Homo sapiens: one gene and its partners. The protein of the gene in region 3 interacts with the protein of the main gene of each other region in a pairwise test. Each region holds a gene or a part of one and is shown on either strand. Other genes may lie near its edges.

Region 1 (6,950 bases), on a different chromosome or scaffold from region 3:
CAAACTAGGCATCTGACAAAGTTCTAATATCTAGAATCTATAAGGCACTTAAATTAACAAGCAAAAACCAAACAACCTCATTAAAAAGTGGGCAAAGGATATGAACAGACACTTTTCAAAAGAAGACATACATGTGGTCAACAAGCATATGAAAAAATGCTCAACATCACTAATCAATGAAAACCACAATGAAATACCATCTTACACCAGTCAGGATGGCTATTACTAAAAAGTCAAAAATAACAGATGTTGGCGATGGTGCAAAGAAAAGGGAACACTTATACACTGTTGGTGGGAATGTCAGTTAGTTCAGCCACTGTGGGAAGCAGTTTGACAATTCCTCAAAGAACTTAAGACAGAACTACCATTTGACCCAGCCATCCATTATTGGGTATATACCCAAAGAAATATAAATCGTTCTGCCATAAAGACACATGCATGCATATGTTCCTTACAACACTATTCACAACAGCAATGACATGGAGTCAACCTAAATGCCCATCAGTGGTATATGGAATAAAGAAAATTTGGTACATATACACCATGGAATACTATGCAGCCACAAAAAGAATGAGATCATGTCCTTGGCAACAACATGGATGGAGTTGGAGGCCATTATTCTAAGCAAAGTAACACAGGAACAGAAAACCAAACACCACATGTTCTCATTTATAAATGGGAGCTAATATTGAGTACACATGGACACAAAGAAGGGGACAATAGACACGGGGGCCTACTTGAGGATGGAGATTGGGAGGAGGGTGAGGATCAAAAAACTATCTATTGGGTACTATGCTTATTGCCTGTGTGATGAAATAATATGTACGCCACACCCCTGTGACACACAATTTATCTATAGAACCAACCTGCCCCTATACCTCTGAAACTAAAATAAAAGTAAAATAAATAAAAACCTTTGCCCTTCAACATACAGTAGTAAGAAAATGAAAAGACAAACCACAGACTTGGAGAAAATATTTTCAAACTACATATCTGATAAAGGACTTGTATATAAGCAACTCTTACATCTCAATAGTAAGGAAGCAAACAACCTAATCAGAAATGGGCAAAATATGTGAGGAGACATTTCTCCAAAGAACATATACAAATATCTAACAAGCAAATAAAAAGATGCTCAATTAGCCATTAAGGAAATGCAAATCTAAATCACAATGAGATACTTCTCCACACCCTCAAGAATAGCTACACATTTGAAAAAAACAAAACAAAACGGGGAAATAACAAATATGGTGATGATGTGAAGAAATACATTGCTGGTGGTTCATATAAATCTAGTAACTGTAAAATAGTACAGCCCCTTGGGAAAACAGTTTGGCAGAAAATTAAACATACAGTTATAATATGACCAAGTAATTCCACTCATAGGTGTTTAACCAAGAGAATTGAAAACGAATGTCCACCCAAAAACTTGCACACAAACGTTCATAGCAGCTTTATTCATAATAGCCAAAAGATAGAAACAATCCAAGTGTTCATCAACTGATGACTAGATAGACAAAATGTAGTATACTGATGCAATGGAATATTACTCAGCTATAAAAAGGAATGAAGTATTTATATATGCCACAACATTAATAAACTTTGGAGACATTATTTAGATGAAATTTTCAGGATAGGCAAATCCATAGGCACAGAAAGTAGATTAGTGGTTGTCTGATGCTGGGAGTAGTAATGAAGACTGACTGCAGATGGGCAAGGAAGATGTCACTGACGTGATGCAAATGTTTTAAAATTAGATTGTAGTGATGGTTGCACCACCCAATAAATTTATAAAATCACTTTAAATATGCAAATTTTATGGCATGTAAATTATCCTAAATACAATATTTAAACACTGTGAGCATCAAGAAAAAAAGAGAACTTTCATCTCCTTACTTTGACAATTTATTAGGGATCATACAGAGGTCATTAGGCTGTTTGTTGTTGTTGCTGTGGTGGTGGTGGGTTGTGGTTTTCCCATGAGAGTCGAGGGTCATGCAACCATTTGGTCTTTTAAAATAAAAATTTTTAAATCAATTAAAAAAGAATATTGCTGGCTTGAAATTTGGAGTAGTCATGGGACAAAGAGAAGTGGATGGATTTTTTAAAATATTCAGGATGTAGAAGTGACAAGATTTTGTAGCAGTTAGATATAGGGAGTGGGGAAAGGTGAGGAGGCCTCAGACTGAGTATGCTTAAAGTTGAATTCCTGTTGTCCTCCCGAACTGGCTGTCCTGTGCTGCCAATCTCAGTGAATGGATCAGCATCCTGGCACAGAGTTGACATTCATTGATTGCCTTTGGAGTGAATGAACAGAGTATGATGAATAGAGTGAAAATATAGCTAAACAAGGCAGACACCAGGTCCTGCCAAATAGCCAATGCAAAACTCACCCTTCAGGTTGGCTCAGCAGATATCCAGCATAATTTTTTTCTCACCTTTCAAACCATTTGGGAAATCATGAGGTATTTTCCTCATCCAGAAGAACACTCACCTACATATCAGCCACTCCTTCCCTAGAACCTACAGGTATGGAGCAGGCTGGGTTTTTTCAAGAGCCTCTTATCCTGTAAATCTTTACACAGGGCAATGGCAGGTGCATGTACAGCCCATATGAGCCCAGGGGATGCTTGGTATTATAGAAAGGGGATCACAGTGGTGCCCAACTGATGGATCCGTGTTCAGTTTGCAGGAAGAGACTCTTCCCACCAAAGAGGTTTGTTAATCCTGGGGTCCCCCTCCCAGCCCCTGGAGGCATCAGATACAGCTGTCAGAAACATTGTAAACACCCAGTGATCCACTTGGCTGGTTTTACTGTTGTTCCCAGGGTTGACAAGCAGAAATACAGAACAAATGGTGGTTCCTGAAACAGAGGCCAAAACAAGGAAGTGATCTGTTCCAGTCCAAGCTTCCAAGAAATAAAGAACTAGGTGGGGCACACTAAACAAGCCCCCAGACTCAACCACCCCAGTAAACATTCCCTTCATCACACTGGTTATGAGATAAAGTATAAGTTTTTTAAGCCTTATTATAAATAACCTTACTTAACGTCTTCTGGTTGTTGTGAAAATTATAGTATTTTGCAAAATATATGTTCACCATTATCATTACCACCAGTTCCTTAATGAGGAGAAACCAGAAGTTGACACCAAAATGTTGATCCATAATGTTTATAGTCCTTCTTTGTCTTTATAGTTAATGTAAAATAAACTGTATGTAATTTTTACTACAGTGTGTCCTGAAAGGGCAAACCAAGCTACAAGCAACTCTAAAAGACTACTACTGTATGGGAGTGGATTATGAAAGTGTTTCTTAAATATGAGAGCTCAAGTTTTTCTTTCAGCGACTGAGTTAAAGCACGCAACTCATTTATCATGAGACTTTTGCTAGGCAGTGTACTATGTCCACTCAACACACATCATTTTAGGCAATCATCTGGTTAAAACGTTTAATAGTATGGCATTCACAAACCCATTCTTCAGAGTTGACATTCAATTAATGGTTTGAATGTCGTTTCCAGGGCAGTCAGGAGTATTTAAAGGCTTTTCCATTGTTTTCGGAAGAGAAAGAAAACTTCCTAGCCTAACTTACTTACCCAGAGCCTTGCTCCAGAGGGGGCAGACAAAGGGTAAAATCTGGGCAGAGAACATTAGTGGATATGAGAACGAAAGAAAGTGCTGCAAGATCTTGCAGACAGCTGAGTTCCACCTTCCACTCTACTGCCGAACAAAGTGAGGCAGGAAGAGGGTAGGGACTCGCTGAAAGCTAAACACCAAGTCAGTGACAGATCCAGGGCTGTAAAGTCCGACCGAGATTGAAACAATGTACACTGGGCGTCAGTCCCAACGCGAGCTTGCTCCAGCTCTTCCAGCTCTTCCTGAGCGCTAGGCCCATCCGGCCTCACGCTGATCTCCGGGCAGACTCTGTCGCGCAACTGGCACAGATCGTGACGACAACCCTGCGGCAAGGCAGGAGTGGCCTTCCTCTCCGCCAGGGTTAAGGTGAGTACCACCGCCCTTGGGCCCAGCAGCCCGGGTGAGAGCCTCCGCCGCCCACTGCGACAGGCCTGAAAGCGAGCGCCTGGGTAAACCCACCCGTAGCACCCATGGGGACACCCCTTCCCTGACCCACGGGACGGAACCCACCTGTGCTGGAGGTCGTGACTGCTAACTCCGCAGAGTGGGCAGAATTCCAAGCAAGGAGAGTCTCGGGAGGCAGCCTTTCACCCGCCTTTTGCCTTTTCACCCCCAAAACTGTCGGCCCCACGCTCCCCTCCCCCAGCCCGCTCGGGCCCAGCGGAGAGCCTGTAGGCCCCGCCCCACTCCTTCCGGCCGTGCAGGGTGGGTGCCTCTGGCGCCCGGGACTTCGCCCGGTGCTAGGGCGTCAGTCTCCCATTCGGAAGGACTGGGCCGGGGCACTCTATTCAATCGCCTTTAGTGAACATACTTGAAGCTATAGGTGCAGGGATGAGAAAAAACAGGCCCATAAAGCTATAAAACCTGGGTCCCCTGCCTGCCATTTCAGTGCTCCTCCCGAGTCCTCCCACTACGCTTCTATTTATGGTAGTTTATCCAGGTTTACTAGAAGTAAAATTCTACTACCTTTCCACCATTTTCTTGAGTTTATGGAAGTCATATACCGCTCATTACTCCCATCGATTCAGCTGAGCATCTTGAACCCAGGGTCCAGATACAGTGCTACATACAGTGAGCACTAGAAGGGAATACCCATTAGGAATGAACACCTTATGCAGGTAAAAATTTAAGAACGATACATATTACAAAGAAGGACCAAAAAGTATACTGAAATAGTATATGCAATGGAAATCCAAGGCAGATTTAAAAAATGAGAGTAAGAACAACAAAAAAAATCAAATGCATATATACTGAAAATGGGAAATTGTGCAGTATTATATTTATTCGAGATTAAAAGTGTTAATCTAATGTCAAAAAAGCAATAAAGGAATTGGTTTGTAGAAGTCAGGATCAACAAAAGAAGAAAAAGCCTCCACATCTTTGCCCTGGAATTCCTTCTGCCATGAATGCTCTTACCCGGCACTTGTTTATTTGGAAAACGGCTACTCGTTATTTTTGACTCAATTTAGATAGCACCTCCTCTGTGAAGCCTTCCCTGTCTTTCCCAGATAAGTTTGTATATTTTTTTTCCCTAGGTCCAGTATGCCCAATGGATCTCGTACAGGCCTCAAGAGTACCACTTACTCTAGATTATAATTTCTCTTTCTGCATGTCTTTGTCCTCTAATGAATAAGTAGCTTCTTGAGAGCAGAAAACTTGTGTTTTTCATATTTGTTCTCCAAGCACAGAGTCTAAAATGTCTATATATTTAATAAATATTTGTTAAAAAATTTCTAGAACCAGTGTGTAAACAAAAGGACATATCCAGAGTGTGAATGTAACATAAAGAGGAAAAACTAAGTACAATGAGAATCTAGATTTAGTCTGGCTGGTATTCATTCATGCAATAAACATTAATGAGTGCCTACTGTATGCCAGGCACTGTACTAAGATCTGGGTGTAAAATGATAAACAAAGCCCAGATATAGTCCATGCCCTTATGCCCTTATGTTTAAAGAACAAATTGGAGTTGGCCAGGCAAATGGGAAAACAAAAAAAGTTTTGGGCAGAAAGAACAGCATGATCCAATGTCCTGTAACAGGAAGATCATAACTGTAGCAATTAGAGTGAATGAGCTCACTTAAAGCTAAGCTGAAATCAACACAAAGTACTCAGAAAAGGCAACAGGTTGATAGACAATACCTGTTTGTTTGAGTCAGTAAAAGAAGCAAGTTTCCTTAATAATAGTAACCAACATTTATAAAATGTGCACTATATGCTAAACACTGGGCTAAGTGTTTGTTTTATATCAAACACTTAAGGTAGATGATATTATTTCTACTTTAAGGATAAGGCAACTGAGGCACAGATAGGTTAAGCAATTTTCACCAGGATCACATGGCAGATAAATTTCAGAGCTGAGATTCAAACCTAGGTAATTTGGCTCCAGACTCTAGGGAGCCTGGATATTTTACTTTTAATAAAATATAAATTTTACTTGTAATAAAATAAAAGTCAGATATTTTACTGTTTCCTCTCTCTGTGTGTGTGTGTGTAGCAGGTCACATGGTGTATGGCACAGAGTGGAACTTCTTAATATTTTTGGAATGAATGAATAGCTGAATAAAAGCAATAGGTACAAATGTGCTAGAAAACAAAATAGAAAAAAACAATAGTATCTGGGTCTTTTTATGTTCCCGCCACACCAGCTGTTCCTAGAACACACCAAACTTGTTCTTGTTCTGCTTCCAAAATATAATCTGCTCATGCATTTGTCCCTCACTGTACTGCTAACATTCCGGACCAGAGTTTGGCTTTTTTTTTTTATCTGTGAAGGGTCAGCTGGTAAATATTTTAGGCTTTTTGAGTCACATACAGTCTTTGTCTCCAGGTATTAAATTCTGCTTTCATAGAGTGAAAGAATTCACAGACAATACATAAATGAATGCGTGTAGGTATGTTCCAATAAAAGTTTATTTACAAAAACAGGCAAGAGGCAGGATTTGCCCTGTGGGCAATAATTTTTAGACTCTTGCTCTAGGCCAAATTATCACCATCTCTTGCATGGACTACTGTATTAAATGATGTCTGAGAGCCATCATCTTTGACTAACATCTACACCTTTGTTTTATCAGCCTCTCAGTGAAGCTTTAGTGATCTCTAATCATATTCATAACCTTGAGTTCTTGAAAGGTGGTTAAAACTATGTGTTAATTGTGATTGTGAACTTCGATTTATCAAAGATGGTCTTTAAAAGAACTACTAGTGATCTTTGAAAGAGTTAAAAAATTAAAGAAGGAAGATTTATTATAAAAGTAGTGACTTTTAGCCAGAAAATAAATATTCTGGACACAGTGCAATGTTGAATTTGGCTGA
Region 2 (4,630 bases), on a different chromosome or scaffold from region 3:
GCAGCATGAGGAGGATGTGGCAATGGGGTGGGGTCCAGACTGACACAGGGCAGCCCCCAAGGGTGGCTGCTGGCACTTTTGGTGGTTGTTGCTGTGGTACCTACGTGGAAGGATGGCTGGGGGGCAGAGTGAAGATATGCTAGGAAGAGAAAGTGGGGACCGTGTATGCAAGAAGGGGGCAAAACTCAAACACACACACAAGCACGCATACACGTGCACACATATAAACATGCGCATGCACATGCACTGCCTTCCGGCTGACTTCTGGCCTCCTCGGTCCCCTTCAGAGCCATCCAGACTGACAGGTGTGACAGGTAGAAGGTGCTGTGAGCACAGTCAGCACTGCCTGGCCAGGAGATGACAGAACCATCTGGGGACAAGGCCCTACGGGTGTCCAGGCGGAGAACAGGCCAGAACGACTCTAGTCTTCAGGCCATATCATCAGGCTGGGGTGCTCACCACTTGGTGGGTGTGGGGAACCCCAAGAAAGCAAGACATTGCAGCACACAAAGCAGGTCCCCAAGTTTATTGGAAAAGGGGAGACAAGAGGCCAGAGAGGCAGGGGGAACAGTCTCACAGTGCTTCTTCCAGGGAAGCAAGGCCCTTCTCCCCGGGAGGGGCTGAAGGCTGAGACAGGGGAAGGAATGGGTCTATTCCCCAGCCACAGGCCCCTTTCCAGTGGGATGAAAGGTGGGGAGGAGCCGCTGGTGGGAATGAGCCGATGGTGTATTCTCAGAACACAAGGGGAAAAGCCAGCGATGTGCTGCTGTTTTCAGCTGGTGGTGGGGCAGTGGCACGTCTGGCAGGCAGAAGGGGCTCCCCTGGCTCTCTTTTGGGCCACTTAATGCCTCCCCTGGCCGCAGGAGCCCCCTCCACAGGTGGTGTTCAGCTGGCCACAGGGCTTGCACAAACCAGTGCTCACCACCAGGTTCCCGTTGCAGGGGGCACTGCAGACGCTGCCCGTCACCGGCCGGGAGCCCGACACGCAGAGATCCCCGCACACAACCCCACCCCGGGAGCTGCTGACACCTGTGGGAACAAGGGCAGGGTCAAGAGACCCCTGCTGATGGCCATCCCATCCAGCCACCTTCCTTTGGTCTGTCTGATGTGTCGACCATCCAGGGAAGGATGCAAAGAGCCTCCAGTTCTATTCTGAAGGAGGGAACCCTAGCCTGGGAGCCAGCAGACCGGGGTTCTGGTCCTGGTTCTGCTTTGTGACTTTGGGAGTCCTTTCCTCTGTCTGGGCCTCAGCTTTCTCACCTATATAAGGTGAAGGTTATGAATGACATCTGAGGTCCCTTCTTGCAATGACATCTTATTATTTTTTCCCCTCCCCAACACATTCAGGCTGTGAGGTTCTTCCTGCGAGCTAACCTCAGTCTGTCTTGCTGCATGACCAACCTATCCTCTTTACTGGGGGAATTATTGGAAACACTCCTCCCAAAGTCTCTGCATATATTCATAGTCAAGAAGTCCTTTGTCCCCAGTCTACATTTTCCTTTTCAGGGCTCAAGATACTTACAGACATTCACAGCTTCAACACCTTCACACAGCCTGAGTGGGGAAAAAGTAAGGAAGGGGAAGATAAAAGAAGTCAGAATGAGGTCATCGAATTTCCGCTAGGTGCTGAAATGGGTCATCTCAGGGCTATTTCTGACCTACATTTATTCCCTTGTGCAGCTTAGAAAAAGTTGCCTTTCTGGCAGTTGAAGCAACGTCAGGTCACACTATTTAGCAAGTAGAGTATGGTTGGATTTCAATTCTTATTTGTCTCTCAGCTGTTATTTGCCTTTGTGCAGTGAACAACCTGAACAACCATATCTGTCAGGTCTAGATAGGCTCAACTTTCAGAAGGAGAAGGCCCTCTTGGGAAGACGAGGTCAGGGGTGGAGTTTGGCCAGCAACCCTGCCCTAGAATAGGTGATGTCCAAGAAACCAGGCAGGGTATGGATCTTGGAAGAGTTGAGAATGAGACAACTTGAAGATATGGATCTGGGATCCATAGAGGCAAGAATGTCACCTGGGGACTGAGACTGAGATAGGGAAAAATCAAAGGTGGGCAGGTCTATGCAAGTGGAGTGCTTAGGGCTGGGTTGGACCCACCTCTGCTCCTCGCCCTCCAGCAGGCGCCTGTAGGTGGCGATCTCGATATCCAGGCCTAGCTTGGAGTTCATCACCTCCTGGTACTCCCTGATCAGGCAGGCCATGTCTTGCTTGGCCTTCTGCAGGGCGCCCTCCAGCTCGGCCAGCTTGCAGCGGGCATCACTGAGGGCCGCCTCACCCTGCTGCTCAGACTGGGCCACCGCAGCTTCCAGCTTGGAGTTCTGGGAGGTAGGGGGAATATGGAGAGGATAAAGTGAAGTTTAGTTTCTTGAAATCCCAGCCAGTCTCCAATAGGATCATTCAACTTCTATCTTAAAATATTATCTCTCCAATCAGCTTCCTAACCTTCCTTCCCTCCTCACTTACACTACACACACACACACACACACACACCACACAGATACACACACACACCTTGGCCAAGACAATCAGAAATATTTCAGTAGATTTCTCATCTTACTCTGTCACCCATGAGACTGCACTGGGAAGACTTTTCCAGAATCTAACTCAAATCCCTCTGCCGAGGGCTAACCCCAGTCTCTTCCTACACTGAGGGGTGGGCCGGGCTCTGGTACCTGGCACTTGGCATTCTCCACCTCGGCTGTCAGCCTCTGGATCATGCGGTTCAGCTCGTTGATCTCCTCCTTGGTGCGGCGCAGGGTCTCCCCGTGCCTGATCACTGTGGCCTTCATCTCCTCACACTGCAGGAAGCAGAGATGTTCATGAGGCTCAGGATGAGACATCCCATTCATTCAGGACAGCTCAGATGATTGCACAGATTGTGCAGTGCTCGGCCTGTGCAACCACACGTGGCAGTCCTGCCCTGCCACCCCAACATGAGAGCTATTGGTTTTTCTCTTACCATCCTTAGGGATCAGAATCCCTAGACAAAGAAGCCTTTTCTACTAGATACCTCACATCCCTCCCACTGCCATGTCTAGCAGGCAGGTGTCCTGTGCCGCTCACCTTGCTGCGATACCAGGACTCGGCCTCAGCCCGGCTACGGGTGGCAATGTCATCATACTGTGCCTTGATCTCGGCAACGATGCAGTCCATGTTCAGGTCCCGGCTGTTGTCCAGCTTGACAACCACGGAGGTGTCTGAGATGTGGGATTGGAGAATGCGGATCTCCTGCAGGAGGTGGGGAAAGGAAGGACAACTCACTTATCTGGGCTTCTCCTAATCCCTGGATGCCTATCATCCTTTTGGCTCATCGGGAGTGAACTTCTCATGTTTAGAGAAACAAACCTGATGAAATCACATAACTTTCTGCACAAATAGGAAATCCCTTTAGAGGAAAACACAACCACTTCTCAACTGCTTGCTTTTGGAATTATTCAGGCCCATGTGCAGCCAGCATGGTCCAGATGCTTTCCAGGGGCTCAGACCCTGTATGGGGGGCCTCTTTCCATTCTCCTAGACCAACCCCATGTAGGAAGGCTATTGCTGCCAGAGAAAGCCCTGGGCCAGAGCAATGGGTTCAATTCTGTTTGATGCTGTGTGGGGTCTATGCTGCAGTCCACTGGCTCAGGGGAAGGATGCAGGGCAGGTTCCCAAGGCACAGGTGTCTGGGGTGCTCACTCTCCTGCCCCTTACTAAATTTGTTCCTTTTTGGCTTTCCATCCGTTTGCCTCCCTGTTCCTTCCCTCTCCTTGCTCCCTGCCAACCCTCCAGCCGTGAGCCTGGGTTCATATGTCAGCAGGCCTGGTTCATGCCTGTGGGTGTCTGGGCAGAGGGTCAGGGATCCCATGGGGGGATCTGTGCCCACCATGGTTGAGAGCCCCTCACCTCCTCGTACAGCCGCCTCAGGAAGTCAATCTCCTGGATCAGGGCCTCCACGTTGGCCTCCAGGTCTGACTTGCGGAGGTAGGCGCAGTCCACATCCTGGGTGGGGTAGAAGGGGCTGTGAGGCCGGCTTTCCTCAGAGGGCTCTGAGGACCTGGCTGCCATGTGGCAGGACAAAGAGGATGGGTGGCGGGACTCAGGGCGGGCTCAGGGCCAGCTGGGCTTCACTCACCTTCTTTAGAGCCACAAACTCGTTCTCTGCTGTGGCTCGAAGTGCTACTTCTTCTTCATACCTGAGGTGAGCAGGGAGAACAGGACCTTGTCTGAACAGCTCTTGATCTTGGCCATGAGCATATATGCAAAGGAGTCTCTTTCCTAGACCTCCCCCTGCTTGTCTCCTGCCCCCAAGTGAAATGGGTGGGGCTCTGCAGGAACCAGGCTGCTGGCCTGGGTACTACTGGGATGCACTGGAGAAATGAAGTGCCTACTCCCCTGTTTTTTTTTGTTTTTGTTTTTGAGATGGAGTCTCGCTCTGTCGCCCAGGTTGGAGCACAGTGGCGCGGTCTCGGCTCACTGCAAGCTCCGCCTCCCAGGTTCATGCCATTCTCCCCTCTCAGCCTCCCGAGTAGCTGGGACTACAGGTGCCCACCACCACGCCTGGCTAATTCACTCCCCTGTTTTGGTGGAGGTTGGGAGAGCAGGATCTGGAAGCTGAGTGTGTGAATGTGTGTGGTTGGGGAGT
Region 3 (7,474 bases):
TTTTAGTTTAGAAATGTTTAGGCTACGAAATACACGGGTAGAATTTACAGAGAGGCAGAGTACTTTAAAATAATTAAATCACCAAATAAAATAAGACAAGTCTGTTACAAGAAATGTTCCCAAAGTGGCCAGATAAGCATCTGTCAGGGGTGCTGTAGGAAGGTCTCCCACTCTGATGAGAAGGTTAGATTAGAGGATCTCTTAAAGCCTAGGAGTCATTGATAGCCTAGTTATGCCCTGAATGCTTGAAGTTATATTTATGCTTATGGAGTAATCTCTAGAAAAATCTGATTTTATTATACTACAAAGCCATAAGTAATTTTTTTGCAACTTGTAGAGTTCTCAGACTAAAGTCAAATGAAACCAAATCATACAAACCAAACTTAACTAGTGACGATTTTTGGTATGTCAATTCACAATGTTAAACAGTAAAGTAACAGAAATCCAGAAATGTAATATTATTTACCCATAGGAAAGTGATCTCAAAAAGCCAAGAGAAAATGCCTCCTAAGGGTCCTTGCTGCAATTTGATCTCAAGAAAGCAGAGAAGAAAATTCTAAAAAGATTATTTCATTTAAGGTTAAATGATTATGGAAATATAAAATTCTCAGTGTTGGTCAAACACAAAACTTGCAGGTGGCTTAGAAAGTGCATACAATTCTCAAAATGTATTCCCTACCGTTAAAGGTATTTATATTTATAGTTATATTTTTCTAGCTATATTAAGCATTATTTTTAAAACACATTACAGTAAAATACACATAAAAGGTACATATATATTACGTATATAATTTGAGTTTTTACAAACTAAACACACCTATGTAATCAGCACCCAGATTTTAAATTGTTTTTGAAGTTAATTTTTCTTACCTTTCAGGAAGAAAAATTTAACGTTCTATTCTGCATATTTGGAGGTACACTATGTAACTTTAAAAGCAACATACCCATCTTGACTTCAAGTGACTTTCTTTTTTTTTTTTTTTTGAGATTGAGTCTCGCTCTGTTGCCCAGGCTGGAGTGCAGTGGCGCGATCTCCGCTCACTGCAAGCTCCGCCTCCCGGGTTCACGCCATTCTCCTGCCTCAGCCTCCCGCGTAGCTGGGACTACAGGCGCCTGCCACCACACTCGGCTAATTTTTTTTGTATTTTTAGTAGAGACGGGTTTTCACAAGTGTTCGCCAGGATGGTCTTGATCTCCTGACCTCGTGATCCACCCGCCTCGGCCTCCCAAAGTGCTGGGATTACAAGCTTGAGCCACCACGCCTGACCTGACTTCAAGTGACTTTCAATACCTCTTGTGGTAGGCAGAATAAATAGCTCCCCAAAGATATCCACATCTTTTTTTTTTTTTTTTTGAGACGGAGTCTCACTCTGTCGCCCAGGCTGGAGTGCAGTGGCACGATCTCGGCTCACTGCAACCTCTGCCTCCTGGGTTCCATTTATTCTCCTGCCTCGGCCTCCCAAGTAGCCGGGACTACAGGCGTGCGCCACCATCCCCGGCTAATTTTGCTTTAGTAGAGACGGGGTGTCACCATGTTGGCCAGGCTGGTCTCGATCTCCTGACGTCGTGATCCGCCCACCTCAGCCTCCCAAAGTGCTGGGATTACAGGAGTGAGCCACCGTGCCTGGCCTAGATATCCACATCTTAATCCCTGAACCTGTGACCATGTTTCCTTACTTGGCAAGAGGGACTTTGCAGATGTGACCAGGACTTTGAGAGGGAAAATTATCTTGGACTATTGAGTGGACCCAATGTAATCACCGGGGTCTTTTTAAGTGAGAGAGGAAGGCAGTAGAGTCACAAAAGATGTGGCAAGGGAGGCAGAAGTCAGAGGTGCCATGTGCCAAGGAATGTGGGCAGCCTCTAGAATCTGGAAGGGGGAAGAAAATGAATTCTCCCTGGCAGCCTCCAGTAGGAAGGCAACCCAACTGACACCTTGATTTTGGTCCCTTGAAACCCATTTTGGATCCTTAACGTCCAAAACTGTAGGATAATACATTTGTGGGTTTTTTTTTTTTTTTTTTTTTTTTTTTTTTTTGAGATAGAGTCTCGCTCTGTTGCCCAGGCTGGAGTGCAGTGGTGCGATCTCGGCTCACTGCAAGCTCCGCCTCCCAGGTTCACGCCATTCTCCTGCCTCAGCCTCCCGAGTAGCTGGGACTACAGGCGCCCGCCACCACGCCCGGCTAATGTTTTGTATTTTTAGTAGAGATGGGGTTTCACCATGTTAGCCAGGATGGTCTCGATCTCCTCACCTTGTGATCCGCCCGCCTCGGCCTCCCAAAGTGCTAGGATTACAGGCGTGAGCCACCGCGCCTGGCCAATTTGTGTTGTTTTAAAGACCCTAATTTTGTGGTAATTTGTTACAGCATATGTGAAACTAATACACCATTTATAGTCTGGTGAGTCTGTCTTCAGATTCATATATCTCACTGCACATTTAATAGCTTCATGTGGCTCACAGGCATCTCAATCATAACATGCCCTAAATTAAAACTTTACTTTTTTCTTCCCAAACCAGGTCACTCTCCCAGCCTTTCTCATCTTAGCACACAACCAACCACCCAATTCCTAATGGCAGAAACCTGGAAGTCATTTCTTTCTTTCTTTCTTTTTTTTTTTTTTTTTAAGAGATGAGGTCTCGATCCAGCACCCAGGCTGGAGTGCAGTGGTTTGATCGAGCTCACTGTTGCCTGGAACTCCTGAGCACAAGCGATCCTCCCACCTCTGCCTTCCAAAGTGCTGGGACTGCAGGTGTGAGCCACCACACCTGGCCCGGAGGTCATTCTTGAGTCTTTTTCCCTGTCATCCCCTTATATCTAACCTATAATTAAGTCTCATCAATTTTACTTCCAAAATAAACATCATATCCATCCACTTCAGTTGAGTTTCACTGCTACCAATCCATTCTCCACAGAGCAGCCAGTGTGATTTAAAAAAGAAATCTGGGCCTGGTGTGGTGGCTCATGTCTGTAATCCTAGCACTTTGGGAGGCCAAAGTGGGCGGATCACCTAAGGTCGGGAGTTTGAGACCAGTCTGGCCAACATGGTGAAACCCCCGTCTCTACTAAAAATACAAAAATTAGCCGGGCATGGTGGTGTGTGCCTGTAATCCCAGCTACTCGGGAGGCTAAGGCAGGAGAATTGCTTGAACCTGGGAGGTGGAGGTTTCAGTGAGCTGAGATCGTACCACTGTACTCCAGCCTGGGCGATAGAGTGGGACCCTGTCTCAAAAACAAACAAACAAACAAAAAAGAAATCTGATAGCACTTCCTTGCAAAAATCCCTTAATGTCTTTTCTTTTGTGGCTAATGTGACCTTTTCGTGGCTCCAAGCTAGCCACAGGAGAACTAAGAGTTCATAAGTATTTTACAAATTAGAGCTTCATTATTAATTGAAATGCATCACAAACTGCAGTTTGATGAGATTTGAAATTTGCTGTACAGCAAGAAATCTCAATGAACTGTTAGACTTAGTTTCACCTGTGGTAAATTTTTAATGGTTGTAAAAAAAAAAAGATGTTAATATTTTGTATCATCAACTTCATTCAAAGTTTCTTGTCAATGGTGACTCAGGAATCTGTTGCCCAGGTTGGTCTCGAACTCCTGGCCTCAAGCTAGCCTTCTCACTTGGCTTCCTAAAATGCTGGGAGTGACTCAGAAATTTGAAAGGGTCATTAAAAAGTCTTAAAGCCTGATTCGGTGGCATGGTCCTGTAGTCCCAGCTACTCAGAAGGCTGAAGCCAGAAAAGATGGCTTGAGGCCAGGAGCTCGAGTGCTGCCTGGACAACATAGTGAGACCCTTGTCTCAAAAACAACAGCAACCCAAAGTCTTATTTATCTTCAGGAGCTGCGCAAGCCCTTTACCACCGCCACGTTTCTCCCTGGATGTCCCTAGGCCTCGGGACTGGCTGGGAGTTCCCTGTAGTGGAGGCCGCCGCTGAACTGATTATAAAGATGAGAGAGGCTCTGCCATGCCTTGGTCATCAATTCACACTCCACCAGTGTCTTCTAGCAGTCACGGCAAGGGTTAACGTCAGGGACCGCTGTGGGGTGGCCGCGCTACACGACAGTATAGTTGCGGTCCTGGTTTATGAAATAACTGAGGGAACAAGAGGCGCAAGAAATCCCTCCTTGGGTGCAAGACCAAAACAACTACCCAGCGGGAAGACTCGGGCTTCAGTGCGTGTGTCGCCAGTGGAGGAGGACGCTTCGGGGCGGGAGCACAAGCTGGCAGGACAGCCCCGCAGCAGCTCCAGCGCGGCAGAGGCCATGGAAGATGGTCCGCTGGTCAGCACCCTGCCTGCGCCTCAAAATACCGCCGGGAAGGTGGGGGACGGGGACGGGAGCAGCCAATCACGCGAGCTCTCTCGGGTGGCGTCAGGGCGCGATCGCGGATTCGGCACTCCGGGTGGGCGTGGCTGGGCGAGCGAGGAGTGGGGACAAGGTCGAGCGACGAGTCGTCTACCCGCGCGCCCGAGCGCGGAAACCGAGGGGCAGGCTCGCGCTCTGCCTGCTTCGTGGCGCTTGGTTCGTCCCTCGCCCGAGGAGCGCGGTGGCGGCGTGGGAGGGAGCCTCTGACGGCGTCTGGTGAGAGCCGCGCGGCGGCGTGGGACTCCGGGAGAGCATCCTGCCCACCCCCAGGGCCGCCTCCCCCGGCCTCCTGCCCCAGGCCTCCCCTCCCCGGCCGCTTTCCACCCCACCGCGCCCCGAGGCCCACACTGGACCCGGCTCTCGCCCAATGTCCTGCAGGCCTCACCATAGGGCACCTCTTTGGCCCAATTCAGGGCTCCGCCGTGTGGCTCGGGGTGGGCCCTGATGAGCAGGGGAGGGGATGTAGAGGGAGGCCCAGGTTGACTTGTCCCCTGGAACAGTGCTGTCCAATCAGGGGGGATGCTGACTGTCCCGTTAGGAGCGGGGCGGGGCGAGAGAGGGTGGAGAACTGCCTGGCAGGCGAGCTGTCCTGGCGTGAAAAGGCTGGGCTAAAAGGTCCCCTCCCTGCTCTGAGTCTACATTCTGAGTCTGGGCTTCCTTGTATATTTGAGAAACGTTAATTCCCCGCCCTCACCCCAATTTTTTTTTTTTTTTTTTTTTTTTTTTTTTTTTTTGAGACTGAGTCTCGCTCTGTCGCCCAGGCTGGAGTGCAGTGGCGCGATCTCGGCTCACTGCAAGCTCCGCCTCCCAGGTTCACGCCATTCTCCTGCCTCAGCCTCCCGAGTAGCTGGGACTACAGGCGCCCACCACCACGCCCGGCTAATTTTTTGTATTTTTAGTAGAGACGGGGTTTCACCATGTTAGCCAGGATGGTCTCGATCTCCTGACCTCGTGATCCGCCCACCTCGGCCTCCCAAAGTGCTGGGATTACAGGCGTGAGCCACCGCGCCCGGCCCCTCCCCCCAGTTTTACGCTTGTAAAATTGTTAGAACACAAGAACGTATTTTTTACTACTCTGGTAGGAGGGGTGGGGTACAGTTTCGCAGTATAGGTAACTCGTTAACCCAACTGTAGGAGCGCCGCAGTTGAAGCCAAACCGAATTATAGCGTCGGAATGGGGCCCTGACTTTCAGACAGCTTTATATAGCTCTTTCCTTCTTATTCCTTTGAGTCCCATCCTCATTGCACTGATGAAAGGGCGATTTATCATGTTTTCGAGGAAGATTTGTACTCATGGATGTTTATGGAATGAACAGACACAAGGCAAACACTGGGTGTGGGACAGTGTTCTGAGCGCTGAAGTCATTCAGACAAGGGTTTGATTTTCGGTTCTCTCAATGATGAACTTGGGTTCAAGTAATTCTCCTGCCTCAGCCTCCCAAGTAGCTGGGATTACAGGCGCCTGCCACCATGCTCGGTTAATTTTTGTATTTTTAGTAGAGACGGGGTTTCACCATGTTGGTCAGGCTGGACTTGAACAGACATCAAGTGATCCGCCCATCTCGGCTTCCCAAAGTGCTGGGGTTACAGGCGTCAGCCACCGCGCCTGGCCAATGATGAACTATTAAACAGTGATTTGGGGCAAGTAAATTATTTTCTCTGTGCTTCCTGTCTGTAAAACGCGGCTAATACGAGGGCTGTGAGGATGAAATGAGTTAATACATGTGAAGAAACCTATTAGCACAATGTTTGGCACTTCAGAAGCGCTCAGCAAATGTTTACTGTTGTTTCCTCTGTTCAGTGACTGCTTGACCCAAGTGTTCATTATTTTTATTTGATAGCCTTAAAAATATTCTCTTCACAAAGAACTCTTTCCACGGTTGAGTGGGGCATTATTTTTCTGGAAAGGGTTAATCACCTTTTGTCAGCATTTATAATGGACGGTCTTGAGTTGAGAGAATGCAGAAAGTAGTCTTTAAGAATTTGGGTTTCTGCCGGGCGTGGTGGCTCACGCTTGTAATCCCAGCACTTTGGGAGGCCAATGCAGGCGGATCACCTGAGGTCAGGAGTTCAAGACCAGCCTGGCCAACATGATGAAACCTCATCTCTACTAAAAATACAAAAATTAGCTCGATGTGGTGGCAGGCGCCTGTGATCCCAGCTACTCAGGAGGCTGAGATAGGAGTATCGCTTGAACCCAGGAAGCGGAGGTTGCAGTGAGCCGAGATTGCACCACTGCACTCCAGCCTGGGCGACAGGCTGTCTGTCTCAAAAAAAAAAAAAAAAAAAAAAAAAAAGAATTGGGTTTCTCTGGCTGGGTATGGTGGCTCATGCCTGTAATCCAAGCACTTTGGGAGGCCAGGCGGCGGATCACCTGAGGTCAGGAGATCGAGACCAGCCTGGCCAACATGGTGAAACCCCACCTCTACTAAAAATACAAAAAAATTAGCTGGGCATGGTGTCACATGCCTGTAATCCCAGCTACTTGGGAGGCTGAGGCAGGAGAATCGCTTCAACCTGGGAGGTGGAGGTTGCAGTGAGCTGAGATCATGTCACTGCACTCCAGCCTGGGCAACAGAGTGAGACCCTGTCTCAAAAACAAAAACAAACAAGAATTGGGTTTTTCAGCGATTGCCAGTGAGTTCAAGATGAAGGCAAACTTGTCCGAAAACTATCATCTATCTGTCTAACATCTATCATCCATCCATCTGTCACCTATTATTTGTTTTTCTGTCTTTCTTTTGGTGGCTCAGGTACAATTATAGAATTGAAGAGTGAAATGGATGCAAGTATTCAGTCCCACCTTCTGACTTTCTGAGCTCTGTGCTGGACAATGCACCTACTTCATAATGTTCATTTAAAAGATTGCTTGTTTTTATTTTTTTATTTAAATTTTAATTTTTTAAAGATAGGGTCTCACTCTGTCACCCAGGCTGGAGTGCAGTGGTCCTTTTCCAATTCGTACTATAGTTTCTTTCAGGGAAAAGAATTATATAGCTGGGGAACACATATGAGAAGACTTTTTGCTATTTAGCCTCTTGTGGCTTTTAATTTACATTTTTAATTTTTGTGAGGCAAGGCCAAGGCAGATGACTTGAGGTCAA

The links. The genes of interacting proteins can lie anywhere in the genome.
Region 1: the proteins of GNE (region 3) and SPRY3 interact in binary tests that used the Homo sapiens proteins (3 or more experiments, as listed by UniProt).
Region 2: the proteins of GNE (region 3) and KRT83 interact in binary tests that used the Homo sapiens proteins (3 or more experiments, as listed by UniProt).

What each region holds. Positions count from the first base shown.
Region 1 is NC_000023.11:155,608,647-155,615,596, forward strand, and holds the start of SPRY3 (protein sprouty homolog 3), read left to right. Parts: upstream 1-3,939; 5' UTR 3,940-4,001; intron 4,002-4,145; exon of another isoform or gene 4,146-4,306; intron 4,307-6,950. UniProt on the Homo sapiens protein: Inhibits neurite branching, arbor length and neurite complexity. Inhibits EGF-mediated p42/44 ERK signaling. Negatively regulates the MAPK cascade, resulting in a reduction of extracellular matrix protein accumulation.
Region 2 is NC_000012.12:52,313,790-52,318,419, forward strand, and holds the end of KRT83 (keratin, type II cuticular Hb3), read right to left. Parts: intron 4,182-4,630; coding exon 4,121-4,181; intron 3,988-4,120; coding exon 3,892-3,987; intron 3,235-3,891; coding exon 3,070-3,234; intron 2,805-3,069; coding exon 2,679-2,804; intron 2,325-2,678; coding exon 2,104-2,324; intron 1,555-2,103; coding exon 1,523-1,554; intron 1,030-1,522; coding exon 842-1,029; 3' UTR 512-841; downstream 1-511.
Region 3 is NC_000009.12:36,255,433-36,262,906, reverse strand, and holds the start of GNE (bifunctional UDP-N-acetylglucosamine 2-epimerase/N-acetylmannosamine kinase), read left to right. Parts: upstream 1-4,458; 5' UTR 4,459-4,586; intron 4,587-5,987; exon of another isoform or gene 5,988-6,011; intron 6,012-7,474. UniProt on the Homo sapiens protein: Bifunctional enzyme that possesses both UDP-N-acetylglucosamine 2-epimerase and N-acetylmannosamine kinase activities, and serves as the initiator of the biosynthetic pathway leading to the production of N-acetylneuraminic acid (NeuAc), a critical precursor in the synthesis of sialic acids.